Homo sapiens: one gene and its partner. The protein of the gene in region 1 purifies or fractionates together with the protein of each later gene. This does not show direct contact. Each region holds a gene or a part of one and is shown in the gene's direction. Other genes may lie near its edges.

Region 1 (3,653 bases):
GCCGCTTTTGATGTTCTTTGTGATCTCCAGCTCTGACTGAATTGTATCGTCACTAGCATCAGCACTTTGCTTAAAAATCAATTTTCATTCTTATAAAAGACAAAGTATTAATGACACAAATATGTCTATACACAGATGCTAATCCTGCTGAAATTGAACTCTTGGCTGGTAGGCAATGCCACCCTGTGGTAGCTCAAAAGTTTATTCATCAATATATGAAAGGCCAAATTCTAAGTAGTGAATGTGGCTTAGGAGTGTTAGTGTAGAATACATTAAACGTGAGTGCTTTTTATTCTGAATTTTGGAGTGAATGTATGTAGTAGCATGTAGTGAAATTAACTGTTAGGAGAAAACAGAGGTAAGAATTCCTGAGAAGTTGGTAAGATTGTTCTTTTACTGTAATTTTTGTTTTTTCTTCAGGGGTTGCAGATGGTGTAGGAGGCTGGAGAGACTATGGAGTTGATCCATCTCAATTCTCAGGGACTTTAATGCGGACGTGTGAACGTTTAGTAAAAGAAGGACGGTTCGTACCTAGTAATCCCATTGGAATTCTCACCACAAGCTACTGTGAGTTGCTGCAAAATAAAGTCCCTTTGCTCGGTAAGTGGGTATCTTATGTGTTTTCCTCTAAAGAAGCCCCCTAGATAGTTAAAAACAAAACCAAGAAAATCATTTATCGGACCAGCTTTTTTCTGAGGCTCTTCCTACTAAGCAGAGTGTGATAGAGAAACTATAGGCTAACCGCTGGGCGCAGTGGCTCACGCCTGTAATCCCAGCACTTTGGGAGGCTGAGGTGGGCAGATCACCTGAGGTCGGGAATTCGAGACCAGCCTGACCAACATAGAGAAACCCCATCTCTACTAAAAATACAAAAATTAGCCAGGCATGGTGGCGCATGCCTGTAATCCCAGCTACTTGGGAGGCTGAGGCAGGAGAATCACTTGAACCCCGGGAGGTGGATGTTGCGGTGTGCCGAGATGGCGCCATTGCACCCCAGCCTGGGCCACAAGAGTGAAACTCCATCTCCAAAAAATAAAAGAGAAACTATAGGCTAACCAGAATACGTAGTACTGCTTGGAGGGAATGTGGATAGGTACAGCCACTTCGGAAAACAATTTGGTATTAAATATGAACATATAGTATGCCACAGCAGTTGCACTTCTAGGTGTTTACCCTAGACTAGAGAAACTCTTGCACAATACGTGAACCAAAAGATAGGTATGAGAATGTTCTCAAAATGTTGCCAATAGCAGAGAACTGGGGACAACCTAAAAGTCTATCTGTTGTAGAAAAATGCATTGTGAAAAGAAACGACTTAAAGCTGCATGTTCTACTCAGGAACATGTTGTGAAGGGAAGAGAGAACATTGCAGAATTCCACCTGACAGTCTGATTCCATATATTTCAAGTTTAGAAACATAAAAAGTTAAAACTGTATTGTTGAGGGATTCTAAAATTTGGTAAAAGAAGAAAGAAGAGCAAGAGGAAAGAAAAGAAATGGTCTGGCCTGCAAAATTCAGTTCATTACCTGTGATGAGTTCAAGTTGTGTTTGGTCACCCCACACTGCTAACAGGTGATTAGTCGGTGAAATAACTTGGCACAAATTAGATCCCCGATAATCTTGTATTAGAAAACTTAAAACCAAGTATTTAGGGTTTGTTTATGTGGTATGCTAATGGAGCATCCTTTGGCCAGGCCTCTACGTTTGTTTGTTACATGATTTCCTGGGAACTTACCCAGCCTTCTAAGCAGTCTCTCAGAGAGGGTATTATTACGTTTCTGCTCATAGCCAGCATCTTTCTAGTTACTAGAAGGCCTCCTTCCCAGTCACCATTGACATTTAAAATCAGCCCCTGTTCGGCCAGGGGCGGCAGCTCACGCCTGTAATCCCAACACTTTGGGAGGCCGAGGTGGGCGGATCATGAGGTCAGGAGATTGAGACCATCGTGGCTAACACAGTGAAACCCTGTCTCTACTAAAAATACAAAAAATTAGCCGGGTGTGGTGGTGGGCACCTGTGGTCCCAGCTACTTAGGAGGCTGAGTCAAGAGAATGGTGTGAACCTGGGAGGCGGAGCTTGCAGTGAGCCAAAATCGCGCCACTGCACTCCAGCGTGGGCGACAGAGCAAGACTCCATCTCCAAAAAAAAAAAAAAAAAAAAAAAATCAGCCCCTGTTTAGCGTTAATGGAGATCACCACAGTTGTTATAGAATTTGCTTTCAGTTTAAGCCCTTTGTAAGGAGTTCTTTTTATCAGTCTGCTGTCTTCTGTCTTTGTGCTGTGATTAACTAACTTGTTTTCCTTCAAACTGAAAAGGGATCTTGTCTTGCAGTTTCAATATATACTGCTTTGTCTTAATTCCCTGTTTTGGACATGCAATCTGGAGCTTGTCTGGCATAGTGAAACATTCTAGATGCTATTTCTAGCACCTCTCTGTCAACTTGCTGTGTGACTTTGGGCAAGCCACTTAACCTGTGATCTCCTTGCTTCACATGTTAAATGGAGAGAGAGCCCCTAGACACAGATTCCAGGGGACTGCCTCCTGCATGTTCTCAAGAGTGGCTCTGCTGACCCTCTGACCCCCGATCATTTACTTTGACTTGAGATAACTGGTTACAAAACACGTAACCATCCTGATTTTACACTTTAGAAGCTTTGGTTTTTGCTGTGCCTTTTTCTTTTTCCTATTCCTACTTTCCCTTTCTGTTCACCCTCATGTAACTGGGAGATATTAATAAAATACATTTAAATTTAATATTAGAGAAAATAATATTTTCTTACATTGAATATTGTGATTACTTTTTTCTCCTAAAAGGCACATTGAAATAATCTTTCATCACCATGTTTGACACACCTTTTTTTCACAAAATCTACACATCTCTAGGCTGTTTGTAATGAAACTCAAGCATATTTTGACAAAGACAAGCTGCTGAGTTTTACTGAACTTCAGCTAGATATAATTGTAAATCATGACAACTTTACCAGATAAGTTAGTTAGGTAATTTTTTTTTTTTAATCCAGCAACTGCTAAAAAGCCTACAAAGCAATTCCAATATAAAAGGCAAGCTGGTAGCTGTAACCACTTATTTCTTTGACTTTCTAGCTGCGTTTGGGTCTAAGGGCATTACAGACTAATTGTTGGCATATATGATTTCCTCAGAAACCTTTAAATGGATTGATAAGGTCCTAAGCAGCCAGAGTATCTTAAGAACCTGAGGGGTTGGTCCTAATAAAGTTATCCCTTTTTCTGCCATACAAAAGGCTTAGTAGTAGTTTACAAAATAAGGAGCTGGGTGATAAAAATATTTCCATTTGAGCATGAGGGACTCGCCTGGGTTCCTGTCTATATGGGTCATTTGTCTAAACATCCTACACTGTGGTTCTCAGCACCGCTTTTCTTACTCATCTTTGCCTGCTTGTGCCTCTCCAAACACGTGAGAATGATTAGCTCTTCTCCCAATATTAGGCTGCTGGGGCCTGAGCCACGTGCACACATCAGGAATTTGAGGAGGCAAAAGAGGAGGGTACACTCCAAGCCCAGATGGTTCTGTAAGGCTGGGCTTATACTTGTTGGTGCTGCTTTGGATACTGAAGCTCAGTCACTCACCAGGACTGTTTTGATTCCAACTCAGCGAGTTACTGTCGCAGGGTAG
Region 2 (3,653 bases), on another chromosome or scaffold:
TTTCTTTTTTTTTTTTTTTTTTTTTTTTTTTTTTTTTTGTGACAGAGTTTTGCTCTTGTTGCCGAGGCTGGAGTGCAATGGCGTGATCTCGGCTCACCACAACCTCCACCTCCCAGGTTCAAGCAATTCTCCTGCCTCAGCCTCCCGAGTAGCTGGGATTACAGCCATGCACCACCACGCCTGGCTAATTTTGTATTTTTAGTAGAGACGGGGTTTCTCCATGTTGTGGCTGGTCTCGAACTCCTGACCTCAGGTGATCCTCCCGCCTCAGCCACCCAAAGTTCTGAAATTACAGGCGTGAGCCACCGCGCCCAGCCCAGAGATTTCTAAACAGAGTTCTAACCAGATGCTTTTCCCTGTCAGTAGAATGAGAATGAATTGGAGGTGGGAGAGACTGGCATGAGGGACACCAGTCAGCCAGTGGAATTAGCTGGTAATGTTGATAGGAGAAGAAAAAGATTCAAAGTTAGGTAGTGGTAGCAAGAATTAGAGGGAAGGTCGGATTTATGATATGTCCAAGGTTGAATTCTAAGGTGAAATTTGGTGGCAGATTTCATGTGTAAATTGGGAAGGTAGATTGAGTTTTTTTAACATGGGTTTTCTAACATGTCAATAGAGTGACTCTGCAGGGGGGCCTGACGAGAGAACAGTGCATGGGGTGATTCAACAGCCAGTTGAGCCTTCATGCAGAGCATTTAACACTGTGACTCTGTAGACTCTGGTTGGCAGTAAAATTTCATTAAACCAATATTTAAACCCTTAGGTAATAATAAAAATTGAGGGAAAAGGATCCAGGTTTTGTATTTTTTATGAATTCAGTTATTGAATTAAACAGGACCTTGCCTCAAGAAATAATCTACCAACAATTAACTTGTTTTAAAGCAAAGTTAGGAAGTGAGCATGTTCAAATTATTAAATAAAAAAGTAAGCTGTGTATTTCATTCATAGAAATAGAGGCTGGCCTACTTCGGATGATTCTCAGCATGTGATTACAGATGTGGGCTTATACATCCTAGGGAGTTAAGGCGTACTCTGGCTTGGATAGAGTAGAGCTCTTTGAAACTCTTCTCTCACCCAGCTAGTTTATATAGACTAGAGAACTAGAATGTAGCAGCATACTCTGTCTTAGAAGCCCTTTTATATAGGAGCTGGTCTGGAAGGTTTGAAAACATAACAAATGTGTTGGTGTCTCCCAATGTATTGCTAGATTCTTACCCAAGAGCATTATCCTGGTTAGGGTTTGGTTTGGTTTTGTTTTGTTTTTTAATGTTTGCCACAAACTAACACTAGATGTTAGTTCTTTCATCAAGTGAGGAGAGTAGAAGAAAAGTCCAGAACTCTGAAACACCTTTTCAAAAGTTTTTCAAGCCATGATGTTTGCAAGTTAAATGCTCTGTTATGTAAGCAATATAATCAGTTTTTATTAATGTAACATTCCTTAGTGTTTTGGGGTATCACACAAAAAAGAATATCCATATCTGGAAGCAACAGCTTTTAAATAAGAGCATTGTGGTGGTGGTGGTGATAGTGGTTTTTTTTTTTTTTTTTGAGTTGGAGTCTCGCTCTGTTGCCCAGGTTGGAGTGCAGTGGCACGATCTCAGCTCGCTTCAACCTCTGCTCCCAGGTTCAAGCAATTCTTCTGCCTCAGCCTCCTGAGTAGCTGGGATTATAGGCACCTGCTACCATGCCTGGCTGATTTTTATTATTTTAGTAGAGACAGGTTTCACCATGTTGGCCAGGCTGGTCTTGAACTCTTAACCTCAGGTGAATCACCCACCTCGGCCTCCCAAAGTGCTGGAATTACAGGCATGAACCACCATGGCCAGCCAAATAAGAGCATTTTTAATGTAAAATTATGCATGAAATGTACATTCAATTTTGTCTTTGTTTACTAGGATCCATGTTCTCACAAGCTATGAAGAAATGGGTGCAAGGAAATACTGATGAGGTAAATCCTACCTTTAGGATAAAAAGATTTCTGTTTATAAGTGCCACCCTCATGTAAGTGAGGTTTAAAATTTTCCTTTTCTTTAGGTCCCATGTTTAAGCAGCATGGCACATTTATGTTCTCTTACCCAGAATGTACCAAGAAAGGGTGGTCCCTTCTTAACATCTAACAATTGCCTGGTAGTAGCAGTGAAGGTATCTTCAGTCAGAGGCTAGGACCACTGAAGGATATACATGCATTCAAGTTTCCATCAGCCAGCAGGCATCAGTAATCAGTGTGTAGATCAAAAGCTCAAATGTTTCCTTCCCCACTGGCAGTTTTACTTCAAGTAGTGGAGGCTTGCTTTTTTAATAGTTAATTAAGTACATTGAGAGATGGGAGGTGAAAAAAGGAAAATGTTTTATTTTGACCATCTAATATGAAAGTAGTTCGGTGTTAGGTATCCAGTAGTTGACACTGGAAGACAGGGAATGACATGTTAATATTCATAGCCAGAGGGTGGCCCAGGTTTTTTCGTACATGGGAATGAAATTCTTATCCAAATAAGTAGAAATTATGTGCGTAAGCCATTTGTTAAGAGCACTGAGTATGTGCATCTCGATCCATCTAATGAATAACCATTATCACCAGTTTAAATTATTTTCTTTAGGCCCAGGAAGAGCTAGCTTGGAAGATTGCTAAAATGATAGTCAGTGACATTATGCAGCAGGCTCAGTATGATCAACCGTTAGAGAAATCTACAAAGGTAAGGATGACTTCGTTTTGTGTAAACTAAAAAGTATTATTTTCCAGGTGTAAAAATAAAAAAGAACATAAGGGGTTTCTTTGCCTTTGAAGGATTAACTGCTGTGGGGATTACCTTCTTATCATAAGCAACTAGAAAATTGACAAACTAAATGAAACAACTGTTTGCATATATTGGACAATGGGCAATACAGGGAAACCATGGAAACCAAACAGAGCCCAGTAGTCTTGCTGAACGAAAGAGTTAAATATCAAAGTTCAGGCCAGGTGCAGTGGCTCACGCCTGTAATCCCAGCACTTTGGGAGGCCAAGGCGGGTGAATCACTTGAGGTCAGGAGTTCAAGACCAGCCTGGCCAACATGGTGAAACCCTGTCTTAGCCGGGTGTGGTGGCAGGCACCTGTAATCCCAACTATTTGGGAGGCTGAGGCAGGAGAATCGCTTGAACCAGGGAGGCGGAGGTTGCAGTGAGCCGAGATCACACCACTGCACTCCAGCCTGGGCGACGAGCGAAACCCCATTTCAAAAAAAAAATCAAAGTTCAGAGAGCTCAATTTGAGTAGAAGTTGTAGGATAAGGTAGCAGAAAAGAGGAAGCTGCCCAGAAAGAAAGCCGTAGAGATATTTAGAGAGATTCCCATGGATCCTTGGCCTAGGAGTGATCTGTATATGTGTGGGGTGAAAACGCATGTGTCCAGGTAGAGAACCCCCCAGAAATTAGTAGGCTGAATGATTGCTGGAACATAGGGCTAAGAAAAGTTCATGGCCAGAAGGATCTGGCCAGAGTAGAGAGACTTAGTAATACACAAGGCATTGGGTAGTGTCTTCACAGAGGTTATGCCTTACTACTGAAGATAAATTAGTCCTAGAGTACAAGCACCTGAACCAAGTTTCAAAGCAAATTTTTAAAGGGTCAAATTACCTAACAACTGCATGCCAAAACAAAGGCCTAACCCTCTTTAC

The links.
Region 2: the proteins of PPTC7 (region 1) and AKAP10 purify together in Homo sapiens (co-immunoprecipitation; one large-scale study listed by IntAct). This does not show direct contact.

Annotation. Positions count from the first base shown.
Region 1 is NC_000012.12:110,548,736-110,552,388, reverse strand, and holds part of PPTC7 (protein phosphatase PTC7 homolog), read left to right. Parts: intron 1-420; coding exon 421-600; intron 601-3,653. UniProt on the Homo sapiens protein: Protein phosphatase that plays an essential role in mitochondrial metabolism and biogenesis. Positively regulates biosynthesis of the ubiquinone, coenzyme Q. Dephosphorylates the ubiquinone biosynthesis protein COQ7 which is likely to lead to its activation.
Region 2 is NC_000017.11:19,908,221-19,911,873, reverse strand, and holds part of AKAP10 (A-kinase anchor protein 10, mitochondrial isoform 1 precursor), read left to right. Parts: intron 1-1,895; coding exon 1,896-1,948; intron 1,949-2,597; coding exon 2,598-2,693; intron 2,694-3,653. UniProt on the Homo sapiens protein: Differentially targeted protein that binds to type I and II regulatory subunits of protein kinase A and anchors them to the mitochondria or the plasma membrane.